3 linked regions of the Homo sapiens genome follow. The protein of the gene in region 1 binds, or shares a complex with, the protein of each later gene. Each region holds a gene or a part of one and is shown on either strand. Other genes may lie near its edges.

What was found.
Region 2: TRAPPC11 (region 1) and TRAPPC12 share a complex: the UniProt entries of both Homo sapiens proteins name them as parts of the multisubunit TRAPP (transport protein particle) complex.
Region 3: TRAPPC11 (region 1) and TRAPPC9 share a complex: the UniProt entries of both Homo sapiens proteins name them as parts of the multisubunit TRAPP (transport protein particle) complex.

Annotation. Positions count from the first base shown.
Region 1 is NC_000004.12:183,652,819-183,663,954, reverse strand, and holds the start of TRAPPC11 (trafficking protein particle complex subunit 11), read right to left. Parts: upstream 4,663-11,136; 5' UTR 4,508-4,662; intron 4,454-4,507; exon of another isoform or gene 3,560-4,453; intron 109-3,559; 5' UTR 88-108; coding exon 1-87. Other genes in the region: RWDD4 (RWD domain-containing protein 4), read left to right, coding at 5,003-5,026, 7,994-8,074. UniProt on the Homo sapiens protein: Involved in endoplasmic reticulum to Golgi apparatus trafficking at a very early stage.
Region 2 is NC_000002.12:3,471,655-3,482,114, forward strand, and holds the end of TRAPPC12 (trafficking protein particle complex subunit 12), read left to right. Parts: intron 1-6,040; coding exon 6,041-6,141; intron 6,142-6,938; exon of another isoform or gene 6,939-7,191; coding exon 7,192-7,279; exon of another isoform or gene 7,280-7,564; coding exon 7,565-7,807; 3' UTR 7,808-7,911; downstream 7,912-10,460. UniProt on the Homo sapiens protein: Component of the TRAPP complex, which is involved in endoplasmic reticulum to Golgi apparatus trafficking at a very early stage.
Region 3 is NC_000008.11:140,368,926-140,380,013, reverse strand, and holds part of TRAPPC9 (trafficking protein particle complex subunit 9), read left to right. Parts: intron 1-8,833; coding exon 8,834-9,050; intron 9,051-11,088. UniProt on the Homo sapiens protein: Functions as an activator of NF-kappa-B through increased phosphorylation of the IKK complex. May function in neuronal cells differentiation. May play a role in vesicular transport from endoplasmic reticulum to Golgi.

The sequences.
Region 1 (11,136 bases):
ATAAACTACATCCAGGCCCGTTAGAGTAACAAAGGCCATAGGCCGGCAACATAATTCCACAGGGAAGTCCCACTGTGTGGGGCTCATGTTTACGATGTCACAAAAAACCTGAAATACAAATGTTAATACATTCATAATTAATTTTTAAAAACTCATATTCATTTCTCCAGCCTGGGCAACAAGAGCAAAACTCTGTCTCAAAAAAAAAAAAAAAAAAACAACTCATATTCATTTCCAATATATGAATCTCTATTTAAAAATCATTACAAAAAAATAATCATTACAAGGCCAGGCATGGTGGCTCACGCATACAATCCCAACACTTTGGGAGGCCGAAGCAGGTGGATCACTGGAGGCCAGGAGTTAAAGACCAGCCTAGCCAACACAGTGAAACCTTGTCTCTACTAAAAATACAAAAAATTGGTTGGTCGTGGTGACTCACGCCTGTAATCCCAGCACTTTGGGAGGCCTAGGTGGGCAGATCACGAGGTCAGGAGATCGAGACCATCCTGGCTAACACGGTGAAACCCTGTCTCTACTAAATATCCAAAAAATTAGCCGGGCGTGGTGGTGGGCGCCTGTAGTCCCAGCTACTCAGGAGGCTGAGGCAGGAGAATGGCGTGAACCCGGGAGGTGGAGGTTGCAGTGAGCCAAGATGGCGCCACTGCACTCTAGCCTGGATGACAGAGGGAGACTCTGTCTCAAAAACAAAAAACAAAAAATTAGCTGGACATGGTGGCACACACCTGTAACCCCAACTACTTGGAGGCTGAGGCAGGAGAATCACTTGAACCCAGGAGGCGGAGGCTCCAGTGAGCCAAGATCACGGCACTCCACTCCAATCTGGGTGACAGAGTGAGACTCTGTCTCAAAAAAAATAAAATAAATAAAATAATCATTACAAAAAGGCAAAAGGCTTTGAGTATCTGCAAACTGTCAAACAAACAGAAGAGAGAAAAAGGGAAAACTTTAATTCCTGAATTAGATCTATTAAAATGTAATAACTATATGACATTTAAGAAAAAATCTTTCATGTTAAAAATGAAGTCAACTTTAAGACAAATCGGCATTTTCAGTAATGTCTCAAAATGCACACAGAACTTTGAAATTAGTAGACCAAGAAAGCAAGAAGGTGATAAAATTAAAATAGATCTACATGATCTATTTCAACTATAAAAGAAAAATATATTGAAAGAAAAATATAAAAGAAAAACAGTTGACTTACATATAATAAACTTCCCCTAATTTCTCTGTAATTGCTAATATTGAATTTCTGAATACCTAGGATATTATTAAAATAGCCTTTAATTTATGTAATTATCTAAATAGTAGCTATGTTGTCTCATTTCCCACAATATAAAATTTACTCTTTAAAGAAAAATCTGTAAGGGAAAAACTAACAATGAATGGAAACCTCTCGGAGGATGTTTCCACTGCGTCCTTTAGCTAAGAATCAGTCCATAATAAATCTAACGTATGCCCTGACTTTATAAGTATATAAAACTATGTTTATCCCGAACAAGACTGTCATTATATTTTTAATATAATCTTACTTGCAAAAGGATGTAACAACATGAGGTTCTTTTTTTTTTTTTTTTTTGAGACGGAGTATCACTCTGTCACCAGGCTGGAGTGCACTGGCCCAATATCAGCTCACTACAACCTCCACCTCCCGGGTTCAAGTGATTCCCCTGCCTCAGCCTCCCTAGTAGCTGGGACTACAGGCATGCACCACCACACCCAGCTAATTTTTTGTATTTTAGTGGACAGGGTTTCACCATGTTGGCCAGGATGGTCTTGATCTCGTGACCTCAGGCGATTGCCAGCCTTGGCCTCCCAAATGAGGTTCTTTTAAAAGATAATCTATACCAGCATATTACAGAGAATTCAGGTAAGGCACAAGTGGCTCATGCCTATAATCCCAGCACTTTTGGAGGACAAGGCCAGAGGATTGTTGAGGCCAGGAGTTCAAGACTGGCCTGGGAAACATAGTGAGATCCTGTCTCTAAAAGAAATAAAAAAGAAAATAGCCGGGCATGGTGGTGCTCACTTGTAGTCCCAGCCACTTGGGAGGCTGAGATGGGAGGATCACTTGAGTCTAGGTGTTTAAAGTTACAGTGAACTATGATTGTGCCACTGCACTCCAGCCTGGGTGACAGAGCAAGATTGTGCCACAAAAAAAAAAAAAAAAAAAAAAGTTATTCCAAACAAAATTATCACTACATTTTAAATATAATCTTATTTGAAAAAGAATGTGTCATGAGGCTCTTTTAAAAGGTAATCTGGCCGGGCGCGGTGGCTCACGCCTGTAATCCCAGCACTTTGGGAGGCCGAGGCGGGCGGATCACAAGGTCAGGAGATCGAGACCATCCTGGCTAACATGGTGAAACCCCGTCTCTACTAAAAACACAAAAAATTAGCCGAGTATGGTGGTGGGCGCCTGTAGTCCCAGCTACTCGGGAGGCTGAGGCAGGAGAATGGCGTGAACCCGGGAGGCGGAGCTTGCAGTGAGCGGAGATCGCGCCACTGCACTCCAGCCTGGGCGACAGAGCGAGGAGACTCCGTCTCAAAAAAAAAAAAAAAAAAAAAAAAAGGTAATCTACACCAGTATACCAGTATATTATGGAGAAGTCTAACACAATCTTTGTGAAAAGTGAGGCACACTTAGGCTAATACCTAATCCCCAAAACATGGAATATTTTCAACTGAAAGGTTAATTTAGGAAAGACTATTAGTCTTCTCATGTTTACATACTGAAAGAACAACAGGTATTCAATAAATGATTTGCAAAGCTTGCCAGAAATGTCTACAACAGATTGTTTTAGAATTGTTTAAATATTTTTAGGACAGGATTAAGTTATGAGGGCAAAGGATTGCATGTTCAGAGAAAGAAACAGTCTAGTTCTGGGTAATGTAGGAATGAAAATTAAAAAGGGGTGACCAGGCTGGGTACAGCGGCTCACGCCTGTAATCCCAGCACTTTGGGAGGCCAAGGCGGGCGATTCACGAGGTCAACGGTTCAAAACCAGCCTGGCCAATAGGGTGAAACCCCGTCTCTACTAAAAATACAAAAATTAGCCGGGCATGGTGATGCGTGCCTATAGTCCCAGCTACTCGGGAGGCTGAGGCAGGAGAATGGCTTGAACCCGGGAGGCGGAGATTTCAGTGAGCCGAGATCGCACCACTGCACTCCAGCCTGGGCAACAGAGCAAGACTCCGTCTCAACAACAACAACAAAAAACAAGTGACCAAAATACAATACGGGCCCCTTTGCTTAATATGAACGAGTCTAGACTAGAGGCCATTTCCTGTAATAACTCCAGAGGCCCAAAAGACATAGCTGTGGTCTTTAAATATGGAGTTGAAATAAGAGGAACTAAAAATGACTGTCATCCAATAGAAATACAAGTCACATAAATAAATTAAAAATTTCTAGCAGTCATATTAAAAAGTAAAACGTGGATGGAATTCATTTTAATATTCAATTTAACGCAGTACAGTATGTCCAAAATATTATCATACTGACAATAATATAAAAGTTATTAATGACATATTTTACCTTTTTTTGTACTGAGTCTTCAAAATCTGGTGTGTATTTCACACTCACAGCACATCTCAATTCAGACTAGCCTATTTCAAATGCCTGATGTAGCTACTGGCTACAGAACTGGACAGCAGAGATCTAAATTATGGGAAATGTGTCCCAAAATTGCTGCACGAAAATTGTATCAGAAAGTCTTGCCACATTCTCCTATGTCACCTGAAATGGTCGTGCTTATTCTGCAGCAAAGGAATTTGAATGAGAACCCCGATAACGCACAGGCGCAGATCGAATGGATTTCAATGACAGGCTGGAAGGAGAAATTTTCAGATATCCAATGGAGCAACCAACGAAACTATACACGAAAGGAGGCGCAGCTATAGAAGGTGAATAATGGATGGGAGATCAAGTAATGCAAGGGAAGTAAACTGGAAACTAGCGTGAAAGATAAGAAAGGTGACCCAATCAAATTGGCAACTAAAAAAACCCCAAAACCTAATGTGGTTACTTTTTTTTTCTTTTAACTAACTGGAAGTTCAGGGTGTTAGGACACAAGGCTGCTAAGAATGGGATTCAGAGATGTTCAACTACAAAACGAACAAAAGAGGAACGACAGTGTGGGGACGAAATGATGTTTCGATGTTAAAGATGAGAAGCAACAATCCAACGTAGGAGAAACACCGTCCCCATGGTCCCAGTATCTGTTCTGGTAGCTCCAGTGAGGAAAGGTAGAGAAATAACCTTGCAGTCCCTAAAGGCAGATATCTTCCTCCTCTTATTCCCCCGTCTTAAACCTGGGAGGCCCTAGAAACGGGTGCGTCTTTCCTCGGGTCTAAAAGAGAAGTGCCAGGATTGCACCCGTCGATGGGATTGCAAAACGCAGGCCCCCAAACCAGCATTGTTAAGAGCTAGCTCTCTTCCTCGGCGGTCCCGCCTGGCCCCGCGGGTCTCCGGGCCCGGACTCACCCAGGCCCCACGCCCCGGGCCCGCTGCAGCTGAGGCCGGTCGCCGCCAGCCGGGAGAAGACGAGGGGAGGCGGGGGGATGTCACAGAACGCCGTGGCCCGTCCCCACCGCCGCAGCCCCACAGCCAGTTCCAACAGGCGAGACTTCCCTGTACCCACCTCCCCCGGCACAGGAAGCACTTTCTGGGCCTGAGTGACCGCGCTCTACACCAATCGCTGTCCCGGAACTTTACGCCGCTCCTCCAAGCGTCAGGGAGACGCTGCACTTCCCAGGCCCCACCAGCCGCGGCTCCGGCTCGTAGCCCACAGCCCACTGCCGGCGGCTGGGCGCTGCCGAGGCTCGGGGCGCGCGCAGTTGGCGTCTGCCAGTGCCAAGACTGTGCCGCCCCCACAGCCGAGGCGCGAAAGGGGGACGCCCGGCCTCTGGGCCGCTGCCTTCGCTTTCTCTTCGTTGTTGCGAACGCCGTCCGCTCAGGAGGCGCCCCGCGACCGGCGCGATGAGTGCCAACGAGGACCAGGAGGTGAGCCCCCCGGCTCAGGGCCCTCTCCCAGCGCGGGCGCGGCGCGCAGCCCCGGGCCCCCGTGAGACCTGGTGCCCGGACAGCCTGCCCGGCACGTGCCCTGTGCCCTCGGAGCCGGCCGGGGTGCCCCGAGTTCACCGGCGTCCCACCCAAGCGCGCGTGAATGGCCAGGAGTCCGCCTCTGCCACTCTTCCCCCCTCATTTTTCATTTTTGCAAATCCGGGAGTCTCCCCTGGTTACTTAATAACAGGGATGAGCGTCCTTGGTGCACGATCCAGTGCTCTTGGCTCTCCTTGAATCCCATGTGTTCAGTGCCTGTTTACTGAGTTAGGCTGATCACCTTTAAATTTTAGTCTGGTCATCTTTAAATCTCTTGGCTAGTAGAGGGCTAATTGAGTTAGTTACATTTCTCATGGAAGAAAATGACACTGGTGGTGCATCTGAGTTTCTGTCCATATTGTTTGGGGAAATCTTTTACCCATCTGTCTGTTTTGAGCATTCATGTACCACCTGAATTTATGGTTTATGCTCAAATATTTCCTTGTGAGATGCCATTTTGACATTGAATCATATAATATTAGAGTTGGGGGGTGGGTGCTACGGGCCATCTGTAGGGGAACCTTCTAACTTTGATAGGTGGGTCGATGATAGCCGCAGGGCTGCACAGTAAGTACGTGGTAGAATCGGGACTAGAAACCAGGTCTTATTGGGTGGTAGATAAGTTCACTGTTAATTTAAAGTATAATGCTTGAAACTTACTACTTTTACATGATAAATGTAATAGAATCTCTGGATTGGAAGTTAACCTTTAAAGGACCCAAAGTCCAACAAGCTAGCTAGTTGATATCTGAATCTCTTCTAAAATATTCTTGCCGGGTGAATTTCTAAGTGAATGCGTTAATAGCTTCTTCTCCCTGCAAAGCAAAGAACATACAGTGTAATGTTTCTCAGAGTTGGACCATAGTCCCCTACCTTAGAACCATTTAGATGGTTGCTAGAAAACAGATGCGTGCACTCCACCCCAGACCTACTGAATCAGAATTTCTGTGGTGGGCCCAGGAATCTCCAGTTTAACAAGAAAATTTCATTCTTCTTTCAGATGACCGATGTTCTGATCTTTGAAGATAGTTTCCTGCCCAGTTTCTCAGACCTTCTCTGAGGAAGTGGTTCCTTTTAGCTTGTCTTCATATATCCATTCTTTGTTAATCTCTTCACTATCCTGGAATCACGTGTTTGTGGACAGATTTTAATTTTTTAAATGTCCTGTTTCAAAATTGTGGCATCTTGCTGTTTTGTCTAGTTAAATTTACTGTCAACTGAAATCTTTTAAGTGCTTTATACAAAGCAATTTGTCTTTCATCTTCAACTTCTACATTTAGGTATCTGAGTATTGATACAAGTTCTACTTACCCTGCTAAATTTCATCATTAGCTTGCTTTTCAAAGACTTTTTGGATTCTTATTCAGCCATCAGCATTATTCACTGTCCCAACAAATTGTCATCCACAAATTTAATAAACTTGCCTCCTATTTTTGTACCTGTCCAAGTCATAAATTAAAATATGGGAAAGGATTAGGGACAGAAGGAGTAGTACTATATCTTGAGTAAGGTTTTTGTTCCAATCTAATCTTAGTTATTCTTGAATCCGGCTTGAATTTCTGTATTTTGTTTTTTTTTGTTTTTTCTGTAAAGGTAGCAAGAGAAACCTGTGGAGCCTGGCTGAAATCTATATAGTCGGTGTTTTATGCCTTTCTTCATTGTGCCAATCAAGTTTCCCTATCTAAGAAGGGTATATCTTGTTTTTCATATACTTACTAGGTCTTAGGGTCTACTCCTTAATGTCCCAGTTCCTCACACACTGTTTCTTCAACAATGTCTTTTTGCTGTTGTTGTTGCTATTTTTGAGACGGAGCCTCGCTCTGTAGCCCAGGCTGGATTGCAGTGGCCCGATCTCGGCTCACTGCAACCTCCGCCTCCTGGGTTCAAGCGATTCTCTTGCCTCAGCCTCCTGAGTAGCTGGGACTACAGGCGCCCATCACCACACCTGGCTAATTTTTGTGTCTTTAGTAGAGATGGGGTTTCACCGTGTTGGCCAGGCTGACCTCGAACTCCTGACCTCAGGTGATCCGCCCGCCTCGGCCTCCCAAAGTGCTGGGATTACAGATGTGAGCCACCGCGCCCAGCCAATAATTTCTATTCTAAAATTTTGACTGTAGATCAAGCCCACTTTCACCATCTTTAGTTTGTAGAATTCATGACATGCATCTTTTTGAAAAACTTAAACGTGTACCCAAGTGCAGTCTTGCTTTACTTCTTTTCTCAGGTATTCATCGGTGATCACAGTGATGAACTTCTCAGTTGTAATACCAAAATGTTCTAAGAACTATGTCCAAGCAAGGATTACTAGTTACATTTTCTCTGACAGTCCTGTCTCATCTTGGGTAGATACTTGTCAGCCTTTTTCTTAAGTTCTTTTTCTTGCCCTTAGGTGTTTTTTAGAGCTTTGTATCACTGTGGGAAGGATTACATATAAAAGAAATGTATGTAAATAATGGGAAAGTATTGTTTTTCATAGTTCTTATCTTTAGGTTTAATGCTCTTTGCACCCAGGTTCGTCTTTAGCCAAGTTCTAAGAGCGCTTGCTCTGGAGTGGCTTTACAGGGAGACTTCCTTGCTTCCCTAGGAAGGAGAAAATAATAGGAGCCTCTTGACAGGGTTGATTTGAGAAGTCAGCGCGATCATACATTGTACAGTGCTTAGTAGTCCCTGACACAGAGTTTGAAAGTAAGTATCATTGGTAGTAATATTGTCATGTGTTGCTGCATGCACCTATGTGGTAAGTATCTAAGGTTATATAAGTTAGTCAAGCTTTTACATAGTTGAGTGGGCTTGAATGAGAAAGTAAAGACCCTCTATTTCTAATTCATTTATACCACTAAACAAAACTCATTCAGTTCTTTATTTCAGATGGAACTAGAAGCATTACGCTCTATTTATGAAGGAGATGAAAGTTTCCGGGAATTAAGTCCAGTTTCTTTTCAATATAGGGTAAGACATGGCATGAATAAGAGCACTTAGAACTTTTCTAGAAAAGACTGAAAGTGGCTAAAAATGCTTATTTTGTTTTTTAAACTTGTTTAAATTTATTATGTCTGTATTTTCTGTAGCATTTAAATGGAAACATCACCCTAACATCAGTCATTTTTAACGTTTGAAAACTTAATTCAGAAGCTTAAAAAACCAAGATAAACTTGTTTTTATTGTACCAGAATCATAAGATACTAGAAATGGAAAAAACCTTAAAAATTATTTAATCTTATCTTTAACATAAAATAGTAACAGTAGGGCTGGGCGCGGTGGCTCTCACCTGTAATCCCAGCACTTTGGGAGGCCAAGGTGGGCGGATCACGAGGTCAGGAGATCGAGACCATCCTGGCCAACATGGTGAAACCCCACTGTCTCTACTAAAAATACAAAAAATTAGCCGGGCATGGTGGCGGGCGCCTGTAGTCCCAGCTACTCGGGAGGCTGAGGCAGGAGAATGGCGTGAACCCGGGAGGCAGAGCTTGCAGTGAGCCGAGATCAAGCCACTGCGACAGAGCGAGACTCTGTCTCAAAAAAAAAATAGTAACAGTATTTTATTTTGTAAATAAGTCATATAAACCTTTTATTCAAATGATTATAAGTAGGCGGGGCACAGTGGCTCACACCTTTAATCCCAGAACTTTGAGAGGCCGAGGCAGGCGGATCACCTCAAGTCTGGAGTTCTAGACCAGCCTGGCCAACAAGGTGAAACCCTGTCTCTACTAAAAATACAAAAATTAGCCACGCATGATGGTGCATGCCTGTAGTCCCAGCTACTTGGGAGGCTGAGGCAGGAGAATCACTTGAACCCAGGAGGCGGAGGTTCCAGTGAGCAGAGATTGTGCCACTGCACTCCAGTCTGGGCGACAGAGCGGGACTCAAAAAAAAAAACAAAAAAAACACACAAATAATTATAAGTAGCGGAATGGGGAAGTTTTTTTTGTAAAAGATTTACAGTTATTATTAACATTGTCACAGTTTAAACTATTAGAAATGATTCTTATGCATGATCGATGGATGACCATCACAGAAAATAAGTTTCTGTTCTCAATTCCCTTTCAAGCTTAACAGTCCTTACACCATCTCCAAGTATGTAATAACCATGGACCTCAAATGTCCAAAGTTAACAGTGGAGCTAAGTCCTAGGCCCTTCGGTTTGAATCCAGTTGCTACTCTCTCCTTAGCAAATGGGAGGTCGAGAATTTCCCTATACTCTCCTAAATATCTCATTCACAATGGCAGTGATTTAGAGCATGTTGTGCAGAATGCCCTAGGACATTTATATGTACTATAAGATGGACACTGACGTGACCCATAGGATGGATTTAAGAAGAATGATACATGAGATTAGGAGACAGTGTGTTGATAGTCAAAGGGCCAGGGGTAAAGTTCTTCCTGTGGCCTGAGTCACACCCCTCAGTTCTTGCACGGAATAGTCTGGTAGCCTCCTAGTTGACTTCCCCGGTTTAATACTTTCTTTAGCTTCCCCCTTATACTCCACCATGAGTCCTCCAACAGTACTAGTTGGCACTCTGAAGCATTTAAGTTGTCATCCCATTCTCTTCTTTAAAAATGTTTTTCTCTGGGTTCCTCTTGCCTATAAAATGAGGACGAAATTTTTTCACTTGACACTCCAAATCCTTCTGTTTGTTTCTGTCTCCAAACTTTCCCCTCCACTCACATGCCTTAGACATAATGGGTTGTGACATTTCCCCCCGTGTATTTTTTTCTAGTACTATGCTTTTGCACACATTGTTTGATCTTTCTCTCACCTCAGGTCCATTATTCCCCTGCCTCTCCTTTAAGGCCTAACTCAGGCCTTCTCTGTGATACATTAATATTTGGGCCATGTCTCCTGTCTCTGCTCTGACTTTGAATCAGAATTAGCCGTTCCCCATTTCTTCATACTTTGTTTTGTTACTTTTGAACTATTATTCATATTGCAGTTTTGTAAGTTATATAAATATCTGTCTGAAGACAGGAATAGCCTTGTCTCTATCTTTGTATCTTCGGTACCCAGCACAGTGTGAGGCATGTGATAATTTATTCCTAAATGCGCCATGAGTAAGGACGTAGTGATTGCATCAAGCAGGTAACTTTTATCACTTTTTATCATCTATATTTAAACATAAACCAATGACATCTATTATGCAGATAATCCTTATCCAGGTCTATCAGTAGATCCCTACATTTATTTTAATAACAATACAGAGGAGATTAGCATAGCCCTGTGTAAGGATGAGATGTTGATTCATGTATCATTCCACCGTTTTACTAGAAGATCACCATTTTGCAACCACCAGTATGATAATTGATTCAGTTACAGTTAAGGACTGTTAATGAAGGCTAAAACCTTTGGGTGAAAGGTTGTTGAGAAACAAGGTATTCATACAGTTTTGTAGTGTTGCCCCACAGACGATGATGATTTTTTTTTTTTTAATAGAGACAGGGTCTTGCTGTGTTGCCCAGGCTGGTCTCTAACTCCTGGCCTCAAGTCATCCTCCCACCTCACCTTCTCAAAGAGCTGGGATTACAGACATGAGCCACCTCACCCAGCGAGATTATTCCTTAATTACAAAATGAAAAGGTTTGTGTTGAAGAGATCTGGAGAAGATCACCTAAACCATGTGATCAATCTTAGTGTCACCAGTGATGATTCTGGAAGATCTTCTGTGCCTCCTTATATGATGCTATGGGAAGATGCCACATCACCTCTGTAGTTTTCTTACCAAAAATGTTTAATTTGAATCAGTTCAGATCTGGGGACATTATACAAGAAAACTAGCCTGTATTCTTTTTGGCTTAAAAGGCAGGGGAAGCCAGTCACAGTGGCTCATGCCTATCTATAATCCCAGCACTTTGGGAGGCTGAGGCAGGAAGATCACTTGAGCTCAGGAGTTCGAGACCAGCCTGGGCAACATAGGAAGACCTTGTCTCTACAGAAAGTTTTTTAAAGTCTGGCATGGGGCACACGCCTGTAGCTCCAGCTACTTGAGTGGCTGAGGTGGGAGGATTTCTTTCTTTTT
Region 2 (10,460 bases), on another chromosome or scaffold:
CATAATCTAAATTAAGGAGGGGCAGAAGCAACTGATCTTCAAACAGAAGAAGCATTATATTCATACTTCTTAGAATTACTTCACTCCAACTTAGATTCCACCTCAGAATCTCTTGACTTGGGTCTTAGAGGGTCCTCACTGGGACTTGGGACTGAGAGGGTCCTCACTTGGACTTGGGTCTGAGAGGATCCTCACTTGGACTGGGAAAGTAGCTGTGGTGCGCAGGTGCAAGTCCAGCAGCCAAGCACAGACGAGGGGCCTGTGCTTGGCATTGGGGCAGCTGAGCGCAGGGTGGTTCTGCAGTGTCTGTGGCCAGTCCTAGGCCTCGGTGTCCTGGACCAAAGGTCAGAGCCCAAGGTGATCAGGCAGGAGAAAGCCTCAGCCACTGCAGGAGTGGTGGGAAGTTGGGATAAACCAGCCACCCCAGGCAGGACGAAGGGGGACGGGATGCAGGACCACTCACCGCTATGGCTGAGAGGACCTCAGCAAGAACCAAGGTCACCTCTGACCGAGTTCCCAGAGAGCAGGAACCCAGGGCAGGGTGGGGAGACGCTGAGGTGGAAGAAGGGAAGGAAGGGCCAGGGAAGCGCTGTGAAGCTGGGAAAGACTTGAGCACGTTTTACAGAGGGGCACGACCCCAGGCTCCAGGAGGGGTGCGGGCACCTTGACCGTCTCGACGAGGAGGGTGGTTTTACGCACACAGCCACGTACCAGCATCCCTCAGGTTGTACGATCTGAAGACATGCAGGTTCCTGTACATCAGCCATAGCTCAACAGAGACCTTCAAATAGAAAAAGAAGAGACTGACTTCTGGCTGCCAGCCTGAGCCGTGGAGTGTGCTGGCTACAGTCAGGGAAAGAGTGGGGAGAGCGTCCTCCAGCCCCTGCCACCCTGTGAGGCCTCATCATGCTGATGTGACACCGAAGTGCAAGCAAAAAGAAAATGTAGGTAAGTGGGATTTCACCAAAACTAAAAACTGTTGTGCTTTAAAGGACACCATAAAGAAAAAGTAAAAAGACAACCTATGGCATGGGAGACATTGCTTGCAAATCCCGTATCTGATAAGAGACTTACATCCAGAATATATGAAGAACTCTTACAGCTGCTAAATTAAAAACGATTCATGGCACTAGCATGCAGCAGGGGAGAGACTGGACTCAACTCTGACTTCACGGAGGACAGGTGGGAACTGACAACCAGGGACCAGGGTCAGGGTCAGCGTCCCTGGTTGGAAAATCACCCAGAGGAAGCTTCAAGAAGGGGTTTCTGGCCAAGCAGACTTGATAGGATCGTTGCTGACAGCCGGCCAGGGTGGTAGGATCTCCAGGTGCTAAGACACCGAGGGCGGGGACTTTTCTTAAACTGACTTAGCAGGATTCTTGCTCACACTGGATTCTACAAGGACAGAGAAGGAAGGCAAGGTCAAGCTTGTCTGGTAGAGGAGGCTTCTGCACGGATGCAGCCTAATTTATGCATTGACAGCCTGCCTGGTTCCCAGCAGGCCCTCGGGTTCTGCAGAGAGAGCAGGTGAGGGGGGGTCAGGGGAAAGGAGAGCACCCCTGGGGCCGGCTCTGCTGTGCTCACGCCGGGACGGGAAGAGGAGCTGGTGAAGGAGAACTCAAGAAAAACATGGAAGAGAAGCTAGGGTACTCTGAAATAGATCGCATCTTTCTTTTATTCGTTTATGTACATTAGCCTGGGGGGATTTGCCCAGTTGGAATGGAACAGTTTTTCTGATAAGCTTTAAAATACAAGAATGTTTTATAACATAAAAATTTAGACTAAAGTTTTCCGTGTTGGTTTTTGGGTAGGGTTTTTCTGGTGGGTTTTTTTGTCTGTTTTTGAGACGAGGCCTCGCTCTGTCACCCACACTGGAGTGCAGAGGCGCAAATGCAGCTCACTGCAGCCTTGACCTCCTGGGCTCAAGCAATCCTCCCGCCTCAGCCTCCCGAGTAGCTGGGAACAGGAATGCACCACCATGCCCAGCTAAGTTTTTTGTAGAGAGGGGGTCTTGCCATGTTGCCCAGGCTGGTCTCAAACTCCTGGCCTCAAGCAATCCTCCTGCCTCTGCCTCCCAAAGTGCTGGGATTACAGGCATGAGCCACTGGGCCCAGCTGAAATGAGTTTTCTGTATCAATTGCAGACCTATGCTTCTGTGACTAAAGTTGATCAGTGGTAAATATGAAAAGAACTGGGTTTTCTAGCTGACTACAGATTTAATATCATCTAGCAACCTATGTGGCTGTTAACATAGCTGTTCTGTCTTTGGATGGTTTAAAATCATCTGACTCCCACACCACAGAGAAGAATCATTCTTGCCTTCCTCTCCAGTCAACAGCTCACAGCCATGGACTGCAGGACACTCCGCCTTGAGAACACTTTAAAATGGCCATTGCCCATCTGTAATGGCTTCCGTGCCACCAAGGTGATGAGGAATCCCAAAACTGTGACAGAGAAGCAGGTGAAGGAGCTGAGAACTGGAGCTCTCCCCCACCCCTCAGTGCCTGTATTAGTTGGGGCTCTCTAGAGGGACAGGACTCATAGAATAGATGAATCTATGAAGGGGAGTTTATTAGGAGAATTGACTCTCGATCACAAGGTGAGGTCCCACAATAGCTGAGGAGCAAGGAAGCCAGTCCAAGTCCCAGAACCTCGGCAAGTCTGCTCTTTCCAACTTCTGCCTGCTTTATTCTGGCTGTGATGGCAGCTGAAGAGATGGTGCCTACCCAGATTAAGGGCGGGTCGGCCTCCCCCAGCCCACTGACTCAAGTGTTCATCTCCTTTGGCAACACCCTCACAGACACACCCAGGATCAATACTTTGCATCCTTCAATTAAATTGACACTCAGTATTAACCTTGACAGCGCCCAAGGAGGGGAGGGCCAGACCCAGCGCACAGTTCCAGTTTCTGCCACGGAAACACTGACCATGTGTTGCTCTTAAGGTCGGAGCTCCAGGGCGGCGTTTCCCCGGGTTTCTGCGTTTATAAGTGATGTTAGTATCTGGTTTGCGTGTGCACAGGTGACATCTCAAAAGGATATGGTGGCTGTTTTCTGTCTTCATATAAGTTAGAAGCTTGCTTTCTCTCTCTCTGGAAAACTTGAGTAATGTGGAATGATCTATTCCCTGAAGGTTTGAGTATTCACCTAAGAATTGCCTTTGCTGAGCACATGAGGTGTGCTGTGTGCTTTTCCTAATTTATTATTATGAATCTGCCTTAGTGTTGTGTGCCTGAGGATTTTTCTGTGTTTCTGGGAACCATTTTGGTAACTGAGAGTTTTCTAGAAAGCCACCTGTTTGGTCCCTGTTTTCTCGTGGATTCGCACAGAGTAAAAGACAGTGCTCTTACCATTATTTCCATTTCCTTGTTCTGCCTGTAGCTATTTCTACTTTTACATTTCTGTTTATGCTTCCTTTTTCTGGATTAGTTTATACACTGTTTTTTGTCTTTTTCTTTGTGAGACAGGATCTTGCTCTGTCTGCCAGGCTGGAGTGCAGTGGCACAGGTATGATTCACTGCAGAACTCCTGGGCTCAAGAGATTCACCTGCCTTAGCCTCTCATGTAGCTGGGGACCACAGTGCTTACGGCCACACCTGGTGCTTACAGCCACACCTGGCTAATTTTCTTTTCTTTTTTAATGGAGACAAGGTCTCACTTTGTTGCCCGGTCTGGTCTTGAACTCCTGAAATTCAGCGATCCTCCCACCTCGGCCTCCCAAAGGGCTGAGATTACAGGTGTGAGCCACCATGCCCAGCCACTGTATTTCCTTTTTAATAGTGTCTTTTACTGATTTGTTTTCTACATATTCTGGAATACTTTTAATTGCATTTTTATGTTTAATTTTTTCAGTTGCTCCTAACTTTTAGAAATCGGTAGGATTTTGTATCCTAATTACATTTTAATAATTCTGAAAATGTCAAGTTACTTTCTAATCATCAGGAAAGTCAGTGGGTAGCAAAGAATATCCCAAGATTTCTCTGTTATCTTCCTCTGAGACATTGAGTAAAGTCCCATGCCAGCCTCAGGAGGCCTTGCAGTGCGGAGGATCAGCACACGGTCTGGGCGTTGGACAGCCTGGGTGTTGACCACAGTGTTCTGTGTTAGCTGTGTGACCTCAGAAAATTGTCTCATCTTTCCAAGCCCGACGACTTCATCTAGAAAGCGAAGCTAGCGACAGCATCTGCATCCCAGGCTGTCGCGAGGGTCAGGCGAGCTGTGCTTGTAAGCGCTTGCCACGGCCGCCGGCACACGTTAATCTTGATCGGTCTTGATGATGGGCTGTAATCATCTTCAGTTCAGTGTCTCACACGGTCCTGTTAGACAGGAGATGCAGGCGTTCGAGCTGAGGGCCGCGTCACGGAGCCCATGCTGCCTTCGGTTTCTTTTTAGTCCGCAAGTGGGAAATCGATAGTAGTGGACTTCAAACGGCTTCGGACTGTGCAGACGACGGGCAGCGATGGACAGATGCCATTCAGTGTGTGGTGTGTGTGCACGCCTGTGTTTTCTCTTGTTTCATTCTGTTTTTTCTTCCTCCTCGTATGGTATTTCTTTTGTGGGATAACAGCAACAGTTGTGAAGGGCCTGAGATGTTATCCTGTTTCCAAGCTGTGGAGTTAGCTGCCACTTTCATGGATGCTGGCAAAAAATGTAAGATTCCTACGTTAGAGAGGAAGGCTATTTATTACACAGCAACAGCAGTACAGCCAGAGTGGCATTCTTCCCACCAGCCACGGGGCCCTGATTCCTCAGGGTCTTCACCGAGGGCCTCATGAGGCCTGCAGTGGGCTGTGTGGCTGGAGAGGAATCCTGAACTTAGAACACCCAAATCCTTGCTACTGGGAGGCGAGCCTGCCTGCCCTTTGCCCCAGAGGGATGCAGTTTAGCTTACAAGGCTGTCCTCTAAACAGGCATCCTTGTGTAAATGCTTTGAACAAAGCCTTGTCACTGTCTGTGCTTGGAAGACATGCAGAAACATGACACCCATGGAGAACCATCTCCCCACCAGTCATCTGAGAAGTTAGCAGGCTTGTTTTAATGCTGGACAGATGCTTGGCGTGGACAGTCTAAGAGTTAACTAGGCTGCTCAGTATGATAGTGATGGGTGCCCCAGCCCTCCTCATGGAGGTGAGCCGCGCGCATTCAGCTTGTTTCTCATCGAGACAGAGGACAGCATTCTGTTAAGTTTCTGCTGCTGCCATGATAACAGAGCTCGCTGTCACATTCTGGCTCCCGCAGGCTGTGCCCCGGACACAAAGCAACTCTGTCTTTACCCTCGTGAGCGCGGCTTGGGCCATAATAGGACTTTTCTTTCATTTGTATCTATTTCTTATTGTAAGCCTTAGATCATTTATTCCCTTCCTTACACTTCTAGAGGTGAAAGAAAACCCAAGTCTGCCTTTGTAAAACCAAGCTGTGGCCTCAGGAGTCAGGGCTGGGGCACTCAGCCTTCCACCCCCCAGGCCTCCTCTGCCACAGGCCTGCTGCATCCGGCTGCATTTCAGTCGGGCAGCCGGTGGGTTTCCTGACATGCGTGATAAGAGTGGGTTTGAGTTTGGTTTGGCTTGTTTTTTACAGTTGAATTCTATATTATTTGGTCAAAATATTACTTTGCAATTTGCAAATGTGGTGGCACCTACCATTTTACTAGCCACAAGTAACTCATAAGTTGACGTAGGACCTGCTCATATTATACCAATATTTTAAGTATTTTATGTTTCATCTTATTAGTTATTCATTTTATTTTATCTAATGCTCTGCCAGAATTCATTCCAAAAGGTAAAAATTACTAAACTATAAGACTCTTAAATAAGGCGTGTATATTAGCAACTTAGTTTCTGACATATAGAACATTAACATTCCACTGTATCTTAAATGTCTTTTGCCTTTTTATTAAAAAATGATTAAATGGTTACTGAAGTTTTCCTCTGCCTGACATATAAATGTCTTCATATTCTAACATGATATTAGGGAACTAAATATATGAGTATAGACTTAATATTTCTTTTGTCAACTAAACTGACTAAATTTTGTCAAAGCAGATTGGAGACATAAAAACAGCTGAAAAGTATTTTCAAGACGTTGAGAAAGTAACACAGAAATTAGATGGACTACAGGGTAAAATCATGGTTTTGATGAACAGGTAAATATTTTAAAACTAAATATATGTTTTCTCAAATTTCCCAGAGGCGTTCAAGCCCCACTTACTGAGTTGGAAAGCTCCCTAGAGAAGGCGCTTCTCCCTGTATCTCCTCTTGCCCTGTGTCTCTCAGAGCGGAGACCCAAGGAGTATACAGGTGTTTTCTTGAATCGCAGTGATGTTCTTTTAGTCACAGAAGCTGATTTTTAAGGAGCTATTCCCCCTTGTTCTTCAGAGAAGCGCTTGTATTGCCCCCGTTTTCAGCGTATGTGTGTGTAAAGGTCACCATTGCTGGCGTAGCGGCCGTTCTGGATCCTGTGCTCTGGTGTTCTGTGTCTGGATCCCGTGCTCTGGTGTTCTGTGTCTGGATCCCGTGCTCTGGTGTTCTGTGGTAGAACGCACAGCGTCGTGCGAGTGCACGTTCGTGAGGAGGAAACACGCCTTGGACAAAGCCTGCAGCCAGGATCAGAAAGCGTAAATAAAGCAGGTGTCCGCTTTTAGCAGGAAGTCATTTAGGTGAAGTTACTCTATCTCAATTAACAAAAACTAGAGTGGCTTGGCCGGGTGCAGTGGCTCATGCCTGTAATCTCAGCACTTTGGGAAGCTGAGGCACGTAGATCACTTGAGGTCAGGAGTTTGAGGCCAGCCTGGCCAACATGGTGAAACCCCATCTCTACTAAAAATACAAAAAATTAGCCAGGCGTGGTGGCAGTCGCCTGTAATCCCAGCTACTTGGGAGGCTGAGGCAGGAGAGTTGCTTGAATCCAGGAGGCGGAGGTTGCGGTGAGCCGAGATCGTGCCACTGCACTACAGCCTGGGCAACGAGAGCAAAACTCCATCTAAAAAATAAAAATAAATAAAAACTAGAGTGGCTTTAATGTGCGAGCCTGAATGCAAAACGCAGCTCACCGCCTCTACCTGGAGATCAGGAACCCCGGGCCACACAGGGCCATACGCTGGGTCTCTGTGGGATCCAAAGCCCCTGTGGGTTGTGTTGGGGGACAGCAGCTCCTGGGCTTTCCCCGCTAACTGCCACCGTTGCTTGTGTTACAGCGCGTTCCTTCACCTCGGGCAGAATAACTTTGCAGAAGCCCACAGGTTCTTCACAGAGATCTTAAGGATGGATCCAAGAAACGCAGTGGTAAGATCCCCAAGCTGCAGGATCCTCCATCCTCTGCCTTTCACAGACGCTAGAAACATACACCCACACACGTCTCAGCAGGGGCCTGCGCTCTCTCTCTCCAGTCCACCAGCTCCAGGCAGTGGCTGTGGCCCTTAGGGGAAGTGACCCAACAGGGCCACCTAGGCTCTGCCCAGCAGCTCTGCACCACCCCCAGGCCCCTAACACGGCCCAGCACGCAGCCTGGAATGGGCGGGCGTCTGTCCTGGTTGTGTGGGCCAACCCTGGGCGTGTGCTCCTCCCTAGGCCAACAACAACGCTGCCGTGTGTCTGCTCTACCTGGGCAAGCTCAAGGACTCCCTGCGGCAGCTGGAGGCCATGGTCCAGCAGGACCCCAGGCACTACCTGCACGAGAGCGTGCTCTTCAACCTGACCACCATGTACGAGCTGGAGTCCTCACGGAGCATGCAGAAGAAACAGGCCCTGCTGGAGGCTGTCGCCGGCAAGGAGGGGGACAGCTTCAACACACAGTGCCTCAAGCTGGCCTAGCTGCCTCCAACACACTACGTCAGAAGGACCCGGGTCTTTGAAACTGTGTCTTGAAGCTAATGTATTAATGTGACATGGAGGAACTCAATAAAACTCCTGCTTCACTGGTGTCTGCTGCGTGTCTTCTTGGTCCCAAGCCACGGCCCAGCCCAGGACTTCCCCGCAGTTGGTCGGCGTTCAGCCACGCAGTCCCTGCAGCTGGGTCACTGTTCATGAATGCAAGGGGCAGGCGTGCTGGGAGGACACAGCTCGTAGACAGGAAATCTGGAGTCAGCCTCGGGGCCTCTGTTCTGGAGGCCAATCCTGCTTTGCTCGTTCCTTCTGGACATCCTCAGAGAAAAGCTGGGAGGTGTGGAGACCCTCTCGCCGTGCACCTGCACGTACAGGGAGATTTACAACAGGGAAGACACCCCCCACAGATCGCCGCTCATGCTCCTCTTGCCCTCCCCACACACCCAAAACTAAGTGCGTTGGTCTTACCCATCCGAGTCTCCTCCAGCCTGATGCCAGCCAAACGACCCCTGCCAGCCTGGCGGTGGAGGAGAGGCCATCACTGTTTCTCCCATAGTTTATACGTCCACGTGGAGAGTGAGCTGAGTGGAACAGGAAGCACGACGCATAATGAAGCACAGGAAGAGCGCGTAAAACGCAGGCAGGCAGGGGCTGGGGGTGGTTTTGAAGCCAGACACGTGTTTTCATGTGTTCTCTCATGCCTGAAAGGCCTTTTGCCCTTACGTTTACACAGTTATTCCTGCTTTTGAAGAACTTAAAGTACCTGAAAATGTCTTCACTTTACGAAAGAACTCTGCCAAGGGTTCTCTAAATATCTAGCTTTGTGGATAGTTTTAAATATAATTCATTTTACAGACTGTGATATAAACATTTGCACAAAGCGAAGCCATATTTCTGTTAATTTTTGTAATAGAGTAGAAACATACAAACACTGCATCTACCAGACAGTCTCAGCCCATTTGCTGACATCTAGATTAATTATGCATTAAAAGAAAAGAAAAAAGAGGTGAGACAGCCAAAAGGACTGTTGGACACCAAGGAGGTTTCAAGATCTTTCTCTTCAAAAAGAGAACTGAAACTATTGTTAAGCCCAGAAAGATGAAGATGTAATTAGAAGCCCTCCACCTTGAGGGTCTTCCTTCAAATGTGACTTCAGGGATGAAGTGTAAGGCTCTTCCTCTGCTCCAACCTGGCACCTTACTGCAGGCATCTTACAGGATTTGCCAGAGGATTATGGAGCCCGTCCTTTACAGGCTCGGGGCTCAGAGCTGTCCCCGGCCAGTTGTGCGGGAAAGCAGACAGCAGTGCCCAGGCTCCAGCTAGACATGAGCCCGGCAAATCAGAAACAGAGATCAAAGTTCCCTAGTAAGCTGGTAAGCCTAAATCCACCCTCCCTCCCAAGCCCCACCCCCATGCTGCTGGCATGAGGCCAGGCCAGGTGACAGTATCATTGCCTCGTTTCTTGCCTGGATTATTTCTTCCTGGTTTTTTTGTTTTTTTTTTTTTTTTTTTTTTTGAGACAGGATCTTACTCTGTCATCCATCCAGGCTGAAGTGCAGTGGTGCAAACATGGTTCACTCCAGCCTCAACCTCCTGGGATCAAACGATTCCCCACTCTCAGCCTCCTGAGTAGCTAGGACCACAAGTGTGCTCCACCACGCCCAGATTTTTTTTATTTTTATAAAGATGGGATCTCACTATGTTGCCCAGGCCAGTCCCTAACTCCTGGCCTCAAGTGATCCTCCCACCTCGGCCTCCCAAAGTGCTGGGGTTACAGGTGTGAGCCATGGTGTCCAGCTAATTTTTTTTTCCTACTGCCTGTATGATTGCAGAATTTTTTGTTTTGTTTTGCTAGAAGAGGAAAACGGTGCTGTGAGTGTCTATAACGTCTGGGACAATTGTAGCTTATCTAGTTTACACTTAGCTTTTCTTTATGTTAAAAATAAATTATACATCCCAGAAATCTTTTCTAGAGCCAATTGAAGTGAATGGCTAACGATCAGAAAGCTTATTTTCTAACTGGAAAATGGGAACTCGCTGAGTTGATGATGGGCTCACAACTGTGGAAATGCCCACCCTGGAATGCACAGTGGAGAATGAAGAAGCCAGTAACCCTGATGGCATCGTTACCGAATGGCCAGGGTGTGCCAGGCGGCAAGGGTGGATTTGCTCCCTGAATGATCCATCCAGCTGAATCTTGAGTCATTCCGCGTTTGCCACGAGGGGCAGTGTTAGATCAGTGGTCCTCAAAGTGGGGTCCCCGAAGCAGCAGCACCAGGTTCTCCTGGGAACTTGACGGAAATGCACATCCTCAGCCACATCCTCTGATCACAGAGGAGTCAACTGCTGGGGCCTGGGCTGGGCCGGCCCGACAGTGTCGTCTGCACCGCCCTCCAGGAGCTTCTGGTGCTCCTGCAGGTGTGAGAACGCATGTCAGACGCCGGAGGCCACAGACAGAATTCCAGTTACACAGCAGGCGTTGGAGCCCATGGGCATCGCCATCCTGCCTTACACTGCTGGCCTCTTCTATGCCCCCTCGAGGATTGTGCCCCCACTTGTTCTCTCTGCCTGGACCCCTCCTGGCATGCACCTTCCTAGTCCCTATTCAGTGTCACCCCCTGAAGCCTGCCCTCAACCCCAG
Region 3 (11,088 bases), on another chromosome or scaffold:
GTTTTACCATCTTAGCAATATTGTCTTCCAATCCATGAACACGAGATACCTACAATAAAGAACCAGTAAATCTTCCTTTTTTCCAGGAAGGAGACAAATTTAGTTGGCAGGCAAAACTTAGAATTTAATTTTTTGTTTTAATTGATTATTTTTTATCTTGGCTGTTTCCTAATAAGAAAGGCATCTTACATTACTGTCATATTTAGATAAGGTGTTGTAGGAATCGGTAATTTCATCTGTAGGATAGGGGTTTTATTAAGCGTATAGATTGTCCTCTCATTTTTTGGCTTCATCCCTTTCTTAATTTTGTATGTCCCTTCAAGGCTTCAGTCTAGTTGCTGGCTTAATTTTTTTCTTTTTATGCAAATTTAATTGCAATAAATAATTCTTTTATAAGGCAAACAATATATGGGGACAAGTGATTTATCCTAGCATTTCTTTCCTGCATGTTTGCTTCACCTTAAATGTGTCATGTATACTGTGAAGATTTGGGGCTGATATTAATTCTCTTAGGGAAGGTGTAATGTGAGCCAGATGGCAGAATAGGACCTTTCCGCACTTGCCCACCTGAAGAAACACCAACCTGACAACCATCCACACACACACCTTCACAAGAGCCAGGAAACCAGGCAGGAGACCACAGCTACACCCACGGTCGCACATAAATAAGAAAAGGTGCATGGAAGAGGATGGGAAGGACAGCCTTGCACCAGCCTCCTCCGGCCCCAGGCAGCACAGCATGGAGGGAGATGACCTCCACTAGGGAAAGGAGAGCAACGTGAGTGCCAGGCCTGCCTCGGACACCAGCACCAGGCTGCCCTGGTAAAAACCAGCACCGGGCAGGCCCTGTGGCCCCAGTTACCAGGCTGGGCCATGGACTGAGCAATGTTTTTTAATGAAAAAAAAAAAAAGTCTGTTAATAGTTAAAAAGAAAGAAAAGAAAAATTTCAAATAATACTTAAGTTTGGAAAATACTTAGTGATTTTTGTTTTGACAATATAGTGGTCCAAAAACTCTCAGCACAAGTTCCTTAAAATTCTGATTAAGAGATAAAAATCCCCCCATCCCCATCCCCAACATCTTTCAAAATGCAAAGCTCATTGTTAAGAAAGGAAAAGGAAATCCTTTTCCCAAAAGCAGGAATTCTGAAAGTCAGTAGGCCTTGGAAGCCAGAGAATGCCCTGCCTAGCTGTGGTAACAGTTTTCAGTGCTCACATAGGAGGGATAGAAAATAAACCTTAGACCTGCCCAGACTTGGGAGTTGGATGGCAGACCCATGTGTAAAGCCAAGATCCCCTAAACGACACGTTTAGCAAAAGAATGAAATAGAAAATACCTCAGTCCTTAAAGTAAGAAAATAAGGAAACTTGATCTTGTTGGAAGGTGTATTAGTCAGGGTTCTCTAGAGGGACAGAACTGATAGGATATATACATATATAAAGGGGAGTTTATTAAGTATTAACTCACATGATTACAAGGTTCCACAATAGGCCGTCTGCAAGCTGAGGAGCAAGGAGAGCCAGTCCGAGTCTCAAAAATGAAGAACTTGGAGTCCAATGTTCTAGTTGGGGAAGCATCTAGCATGGGAGAAAGATGTAGGCTGGGAGGCTAGGCCAGCCTCGTCTTTTCATATTTTCTGCCTGCTTATATTCTTAGCTGCGCTGGCAGCAGATGAAGTGTGGGTCTGCCTCTCCCAGCCCACCGAGTCAAATGTTAATCTCCTTTGGCAGCACCCTCCCAGACACACCCAGGATCAATACTTTGCATCCTTCAGTCCCATCAAGTTGACGCTTAGTATTAAGCATTACAGAAGGAAACAAAACCAATCCAAAGAGGGTTTAGTTTAAAGTTGTCCTGGTATAAGAGTGACCACAAACTCCTGGCAGAAAAACATAAGTCCTTCTGGAGTGAGAAGCTACGTTCTGAATGAATCAGTGAACAGAAAACATGAAAAAGGTTCACGGAAGCTCTGGATTGAGATGTTAGACCCCAAATACACTGCCTTTGCCTCTCTCCCAAGGTCTCATTTAAGTATCCCAAAGTATTTTTTTTTTTTGAGACAGTCTTGCTCTGTCACTCATGCTGGAGTGCAGTGGCGTGATCGTGGCTCACTGCAACCTCTGCCCCCCGGGTTCAAGCGATTCACCTGCCTCAGCTTCCCAAGTAGCTGGGATTACAGGTGTGCACCACCGTGTCCATCTAATCTGACAACACATCATTAGTGTTTTGTAGTGTAGTGCGGAAGGCATTAGTCTATTTCGGACAGGCAGGAGAGGAGTTTAGGAAAGGAGTGATGGGGGGTGGGGGACGTTTTAGCTGTGTATGGTCTTGTTTAATTGGCTTTTAATTTCAGGCTGCATGAGTTGTCATTGGAGGGACTAGATTTTATGGAGAACAGACTTAAAGAAACTCAGAACTTGGCTGGGTGCAGTGGCTCATGCCTGTAATCCCAGCACTTTGGGAGGCTGAGGCGGATCACCTGAGGTCAGGAGTTTGAGACCAGCTTGGCCAACATGACGAAACCCTGTCTCTACTAAAAATACAAAAAGTAGCCGGGTGTGGCGTCGGGCACCTGTAATCACAGCTCCTGAGGAGGCTGAGGCGGGAGAATTGTTTGAACCTGGGAGGCAGAGGTTGCAGTAAGCCGAGATTACGCCACTGCGCTCCAGCCTGGGCCACAAGGGTGAAATTCTGTCTCAAAAAAAGAGAAGAAAAAAAAAAGAAACTGAGAACTCTGGTATGGAAAGATGAATGTGGAGAAAAGCTGTAGTCAGAGTTCAAATCATCTTTAAAGTACACATGAACTCGCTTGCTCACTAAACCCAAAGATGGTAAAATAGGCAGTATTTCTTGAAGCCAAAGGAGTGGGTTTTTCAGGTTATCCAAGAATGAATCAAAGGCTGGAACTGAGGTGATCAGGGGTCAAGCGCGGACTTTGCTTGGCCATCTCTTTTGGATGGTGCACTCAACAAGGGCACTGACTGTTTACAAAGTGTCCTTCCTCTAGCATGTGGTGGGTATACCTGGTAGTCTAGGAACCTTCCAGGTATCTGTCCAAGGCATAGGGCACAGCATCCCTGTTTCAGCCATCTCTCCATCCATCTTCTTCCCAACACTGTGATTTTTTTTTTTTTTTTTTTGAGATGGAGCCTCGCTCTTGTTGTGCTGAAGTGCAGTGGCGCGATCTCGGTTCACTGCTAACTTCCACCTCCCAGGTTCAAGTGATTCTCCTGCCTCAGCCTCCTGAGTAGCTGGGACTATAGGCACCCACCATCACGCCCGGCTAATTTTTATATTTTTAGTTGAGATGGGGTTTCACTATGTTGGCCAGGCTGGTCTCGAACTCCTGACCTCAGGTAATCTGCCTGCCTTAGCCTCCCAAAGTGCTGAGATTATCGGCATGAGCCACGTTGCCTGGCCTCAACACTGTGATTCTTTTTTTTTTTTTTTTTTTTTTTTTAGATGGAGTCTTGCTCTGTGCCCAGGCTAGAGTGCAGTGGCGCAATCCCGGCTCACTGCAAGTTCCGTCTCCCAAGTTCACGCCATTCTCCTGCCTCAGCCTCCCAAGTAGCTGGGACTACAGGTGCCTGCCACCACGCCTGGCTAATTTTTTGTATTTTTAGTAGAGACGGGGTTTCACTGTGTTGGCCAGGATGATCCTGATCTCCTGACCTTGTGATCTGCCCACCTCATCCTCCCAAAGTGCTAGGATTACAGGCGTGAGCCACCGCGCCCGGCCTCCAACACTGTGATTCTTTATGGACCTATCTCCTCTACTACTTCATGAAGTTTTGAGGGACCAGGTCTTATTGAAGTTTTTGTTTTGTTTTGCTTTGTTTTCATTCTTACTTTTGAATGATTAAAACTGAAAATGGATCCAATTACTTTAGACAGATGCTTTATAAAGGAAAATCCTTGGTGCATGCCTCATACCCCTACTCCGGGATATGAGAAAGTAGGTTATGTTTTTAACAAACTTTTTTGATAGACATATATGGAAAGTTTGTATAATTTTGAAGATGTATTTTCTCTCCATGTAATTATGGCTGGAAATAGCCGGAGAGAGGAGCAGAGTGTGTTTTCAAACCTGGGAATGTGTGGGGCCTGCTGTTTCCCATCCGGCATTCTCCCACGGTCATCATTTAGTTGAGTGCGGCCACCAGGCTGCCCCTACACATCTGTCACTGACTTGTTCTTCTGATCACTGCAAGTGCCCACGTTTGAGAAGGCTGATGAGGGTTAAGGCATTTTCTAGAGCATCAGTGGCTGGTTAACTTGGGGTTAGAACTTGTGGTGTCAAAGGCATTAACTAACAGTGATATTTCTGTTTCTTGAACACTCACTGAGAGTTTTAGGCTTATGCTCAGTGTTTGCATTATTTCATTGAGTCTTTTTGACAATCGTAATTAGATTTGATGATCCCTGTTTCTTAGGGATATGCAGATGTGGCCCTGGAACTCAGGACTTTACAGCTCCAGGCTGTATTCCTCCCTCTCCATCCTGCCAGAGACAAGTCCTGTGTCTGGAGTTTCCCTCTGATCTTGTCACTTTATTTCTTATTAACAGAATAAAGCAGGTCTAAACTTACTTTCTACTTGGAAATGGAATGGTGAGTTAATATTTGGATCCCTCAGAGTCTGCCTTGTGAATAAAGCTCCTTGTCTTGAGTAGTCTTGGAGCCACTTTCGTTGGAACCTCACATAAACATCTGGGCCCTGAACTTGGACTTCGTGACTGTGCAGCCTATTGAAAGATTAGAACAAAGATGTGCTGATTAATATGCCCTAAAAGAGCAGCAGGTTGGAAATGAGTTTGGGGATTTCATCTCATTTCAAGATTTCCTGAGGATCTTGGCCTAGCTTTGCCAGGGACCATTTTGTACTCCCCGGCTCCTTGTGCCATAGGTGCCTGTGTCGACCAAACATGGCTTTGTCCTGAGGCTCTCTGGGCTCATGGCTTCTCAGTCAATTGTCTGCCTAGTGCCCAAAAGCAGTTGCGCTCGAGCTTTTCCCATTAAGGAACCGTTTTAGGGCTTTAAAGTGATGTCAATTCCATTTGCAATGTAGTATTTATCATTTGACTTCTTATTACACTGAAATGATAAGAGGAATGAAGTAATATTATTACTGATCATAGTATTATTTACAACCTTTCATCTTAGATAGGTTCCATGAAAGAATCAATGGGAGTTCTAACGCATTGGTGGCCAAGGCATGTGACCTTCCCCGGCTGTCACCTTTATTTTAGATGGTGACCTCTTTACAGGCACTGGCTAAGATCAGTATTCGTCTTCTCTGCCCCCTTCTCTGCCCCAACATCTTTGATCATGTCTGGCACATAGTGGGTGCAGCTGAAGGTCTGGGCATTTCCAGATTTGTGATGAAGGCGTTAAGTACCCCCACCTCTTCTTTTTCTTTTTTTCTTTTCTTTTCTTTTTTTTTTTGACATGGAGTTTCACTCTTGTTGCCCAGGCTGGAGTGTAATGGCACAATCTTGGCTCACTGCAACCTCCGCCTCCTGGGTTCAAGCAATTCTTCTGCTTCAGCCTCTCAAGTAGCTGGGATTACAGGTATGCACCACCACGCCTGGCTAATTTTGTATTTTTTAGTAGAGACGGGGTTTCTCCATGTTGGTCAGGCTGGTCTCGAACTCCCAACCTCAGGTGATCTGCCTGCCTCGGCCTCCCAAAGTGCTGGGATTACAGGTGTGCGCCACTGCGCCCGGCCAACCCCTGCCTCCTCTTTACAGTCCTCTTCCACCCCGTCCCTGGCTGCTGTCCTCCAGCACTGGGGCTTCTGTTCGCTGCTGTACTGCACACTCCTGGAAAGGGACAGGCCATGTCCTACTCAAATTTGAATATTCACGGACCATAGACCTAGACAACAACTTCTAGATGAAAACATAGGATATCTTTGTGACCTCGGGCAAAGATTTTTCTCAGATGAGGACATAGAAGGCACTAACCATAGAAGAAAAAGCTGATAGATTGAGCTACATCACAGAGAAATGCTTTTGCTTATGAACACTCCCTTAGGGAAATAAATCGGCAACAGACCGGGAGGAAATATTTGCAAAACACATATAACTAAGGACTTGCATTCAGAATATATACAGAACTCGTACGACTCAGTAATAAAACAAACGATCTAATTTTAAAAACTGTCAGAAGATTTGAACAAGCGCTTCACAAAGGAAGATATACCAGTGGCCAGTGATCATATGAAAAAGGTTCAACATCATTAGTTTTCAGGGAAATGGAAGTTAAAGCCACCACAACGTCTAAAATAAAAAAGACTGATATCCTCATATGCTGGTGAGCAGGTGATATCCTCATATGCTGGTGAGCAGGTGATATCCTCATATGCTGGTGAGCAGGTGGAGCAACAGGGATTCTCACACATCGTCGGCGTCGGCATGACCTTTCACTGTAGGAAAAGTGGGGCTGGCAGAGATCCGATATGTAGGTAAATTGTGTGGGAGACACAGAGAAAGGACATTATGGAGTCCAGCATGGTTAGGAGAATTTAGGGAAAGAAGCAGCAGCTTCCCGCTGAAGGGCATGAGGACCAGCTTCTTGGAGAGGGTGGCATTGGAACCGAGTGTCCAAAGGGAGAGCCAGATGTGGCTGTGGAGGCATTGCAGGAGCAGAGAGCCTGTGTGCCCCGGCGGCGTCACCTAGTACAGCCTGCCTCATACGCTTCCACCCATGATTCTATGTCAAAGAGTATTTCATTGGACTTAGAGCAGCTATTTTGTTTATTTTTTCATTGATTTATTGTCATCCTCCCCACTGATTCTAAGCCAGGGGACTAGCCTGTCATTAGCATGGAGGCCCCCAGGGGTAGGAGTCTTAGCTTGTTTTGCTCACTGCTGTATCCTCTGCCACAAGAGTGGCTGGCACCAGAGTAGGGGTTCAGTAAATATGTGTTGACAGAATGAGAAAACAAATGAGTTAAAGTTGTTCAGTCTGGTGAGGTCATAGGTAGGCAGTGGGGCCTCGAATTTCCAGAGCAGGTTGGGGCTGAGGAGGGCCTGGCATGCCCGTGAAGGCATTTGGGCTCCATTTTACAGTCCTGAAGGGGTCTAGTGGTTTCAAGATGGGGATTGTCTTAGTCCGGTGAGGCTGCTGTCACAAAATGCCACAGACTGGGTGGCTGATAAACAATAGAAATGTATTGTGCACAGTTCTAGAGGCTAGAAGTCCATGATCCAGGTGCCAGCATGTTTGGTGTCTGGGGAGGGCCCACTTGCTTGTTCATAGACCGCCGTCTTTTCTCTGTGTTCTCACATGGTGCAACAGGTGAGCTAGCTCTTTAGGGTCTCTTCTTATAAGGGCACTAATTCCATTTGTGAGTGCTTCACCCCCTGACCCAATCACTTTTTAAAGTCCCCACCTCCTAATTCCATCACCTTGGGGGCTAGGCTTTCAACATGTGAATTTTGGGGAGGCACAAACATTCAAACCGTGGCTCGGGTGATGGGCTCTGAGCCATGTCTCAGGAACCTAAGTCTGGCAGGGGTGTGTGGACAGGTGAAGGAAGGTCGAGAGGTGGTAGGAAGACAATGCCGATTCCTCTTCCAGATGAGGGCTGACGAGGGCCCCATCGAGGCCATGGCAGTGAGCGCGGAGGAGAGGGGATGGAGGGAGGGTTTGGAGGCCCAAGTTGGAAGGGCGTTCAAGCTAAGGCTCTGTACTCACAGAAACATCAGGGAAACATTCATCGTCCAGGGCAGAGGAGGGAGAGAAGCGCTTCCTTAACAGTGCTCCTGGAGCAGCAGAGTGGGCTCTGCCTTCCTTCTTCTCTGAAGGCGCTGTGCAGTGGGCAGGGCCCAGGCCCAGAGTCAGGTCTTGTCCCTGATACTTCTTGGCTGTGTGATTTTGCACAGGTGATTAATGTGTCCCTGAGCTGTTAATGTCCTTATTTGCCAGCTCACAGGATGCTTGTATTGAGTAAATCAGGTACGTTAAGTCTGCTGCCATACAGTAGGTGCTGAAGAAACAGAAGTTGTTGGCTGGGCGTGGTGGCTCACACCTGTAATCCCAGCACTTTGGGAGACTGAGGCAGGCAGATCACCTGAGGTCAGGAGTTCGAGACCAGCCTGGTTAACATGGTGAAATCCCGTCTCTACTGAAAGTACAAAAATTAGCCAGCATGGGGGTGGGTGCTTGTAATCTCAGCTACACTGGAGGATGAGGCAGGAGAATCTCTTGAACCCGGGAGGTGGAGGTTGCAGTGAGCCAAGATCGTACCACTGCACTCCAGCCTGAGTGACAGAGTGAGACTCCGTCTCAAAAAAAAAAGAAAAGAAACAGAAGTTATGATTGCTACACTACAGGGTTGTTGGGAGGATTCAGTTGGGTCTTGGATGAAAGAAAACTTTTGTAAACCCTGAAGTCTTAAGTCTGATATCAGTGGTATTGTTAATAATTCATTACCCAGTTACATGATTCTGTGTCTTCTTGTGTTTTAAGAATTTTTGTGTTTGATGAGAGACCTTGATAAAATCCTGTTGTGTAGATGAACTCTTGTTCCTTTTCTTTTCTTTTGTGAAGGAACTTAAAGTAGAGGTCTCAGATTTGTAGCAGGTACCTTTGTAGCAGAGAATCTGGGCTTTATCAGCAGGAAGATGGGCTGCACCTGCAGCTGTGGCTGGGGAAGGTCTGAAGCCACCTGGGGCCTGCGCCATGCGCTGCTCACCAGGCTTTCCCTCTCCTTGATTCTCCTCGATTCTCCTCAGGTCTTTGTTTTATGAAGAGACATTTTTAATGTGTGCTTCTTTTTTCACTTATACGTTTCTTTCAAAAGCTTTTTACTTTCTCTCTGTGCTTCAGCTTTCTGAGGAAGAGAAAATTCAGCGCTACAGCATCCTCTCCGAGCTCTATGAGCTGATCGGCTTCCATCGCAAGTCTGCGTTCTTCAAGCGCGTGGCCGCCATGCAGTGCGTGGCCCCAAGCATCGCGGAGCCTGGGTGGAGGGCCTGCTACAAACTCCTCCTGGAAACGCTGCCCGGCTACAGTCTGTCGCTGGATCCCAAAGATTTCAGCAGAGGTACTGGAGTCCCCTTGCTGGCGCTAAGGTGTTGCTTTCTGTCTGATGGTCACATGCTGTTTCAGCCCCTGCCCTGAGTGGCAGACATCGTGGTTGGTGCTGGTGGCTCCAGAATGACTAGATCCCTGCCCTGGAGTTGGGTGCCTGCTGTAATCCGATTATAGGAAAAAGTACTGGTGCTTTGCCTTGGGGCTCGGATTCTTGAATCTTTATCAGTGGGAGTCAGAAATTGCCTTTGAGTTCATTGGCATGGTGTGTCATCATCAATCAAACAGTGGAAGTACCTAATGAATTTTACTCATGAGATTTAGTTAGTTTAGCACAAATCAATGAACCCAGAATAAATATCCTTGGGTATATGTGTATACCTGAGCTATGCATTCAGCAGTAAATTCTTATTCTGAAATATTAATGCAGGGTAATATGTATTAAAAATAAAGCTATCAATCTAATAACAAATATGTACAAGGATAATGCCCAGTATTAGACAAAGTCTGATTAGAAGGAGAAAAAACATTTTTGGGGGCCAGGCACGGTGGCTCACTCCTGTAATCCCCAGCACTTTGGGAGACCAGGGTGGGCGGATCACTTGAGGTCAGGAGTTCATGACCAGCCTGGCCAACATGGTGAAACACTGTCTCTACCAAAAAACAAAAATTAGCTGGGCATGGTGGCGTGCGCTTGTAGTCCCAGCTACTCAGGAGGCTGAGGCAAGAGAATTACTTGAACCTGGGAGGTGGAGGTTGCAGTGAGCTGGGATCGTGCTACTGCACTCCAGCCTGGGCGACAGAGAAAGACCTTATCTAAAAAAAACCCAAAAAAACAAAAAAAAAAACATTTTTGAGGGGTTACTTTTAGATAGGAAACATACACTTTTTCTTTAGTTCAAGCCTAGAGCTAGTGAAGGTATAGGCTTCTAGACAGGAAAGAACTGTGATGTCATCTAGGTTAATTTCCCACCAGGGCAAAAATGGGTTCTTCGGCATCCTTTTTATTTTTATTTTTTTTCCTGAGACAGAGTTTCACTCTTGTTGCCCAGGCTGGAGTGCAATGGCATGATCTTGGCTCACTGCAGCCTCCAACTCCTGGGTTCAAGTGATTCTCCTGCCTCAGCCTCCTGAGAAGCTGGGATTACAGGCACGTGCTACCACGCCCAGCTAATTTTTGTATTTTTAGTAGAGATGGGGTTTCACCATGTTGGCCAGGCTGGTCTCAAACTCCTGACCTCAGGTGATCCGCCCACTTTGGCCTCCCAAAGTGCTGGGATTACAGGCATGAGCCACCATGCCCGGCCTCTTCAGTATCTTTTTTATGTGGTCATGTCCATCCATTTCACTGGCCTCTGCTGACTGAAGGTGCTCATGGCTTTATGATGAATCCAAAAGTTCTGCTTTTGGATAATTCTGATAGTTAGGGCTCTCCCCAACGTTGAATTAAACATTATGTTTCTCCTTACTTTCACCTGCTAGAATATCTGAAGACATCTACTGGACTTTTTTGTACATTGATTCAACAGGTAGTTCGTTATACTCCTGCCCCCATGCCATGCAGTGTGTTGGGTGAGTGATGCGATGGCAAAGGAGACAGTTTCTGCCCTCTACAGTGGAAATAAACAGGTGCCTCTCACATGTGACAGCTTCCCGGTGTTTGCACAGAGCTCTCAGGTCCTTCCAGAGCCTGCTTCTAACTTACGTGTCTGTGGTTGCTGTGACAGTCACTCCTAAGTCACACTCCCCAGACTTCTTACTGTTCAACCATCTTCCCAGGCAACACTTACATTTGATAGAACCTCAAATCCGATTCTCAGGATGCATTCTGGTTAGCTTCGAGCAGGGGTCAGCAAATGTTCTCTGTAAAGGGCCAGATAGTAAATATTTTAGGCTTTATGAGCCACACGGTCTGTGCGGAAATGACTGGACCCTGCTGTTGTGGTGTGAAAGCAGCCATGGACGGCACGCACACCATGGAACTGTGTTTACATTAGTACATGGTGGCCAGATTTGGCATGGCAGCTATACTTTGCGAAATCCCTGGCTGA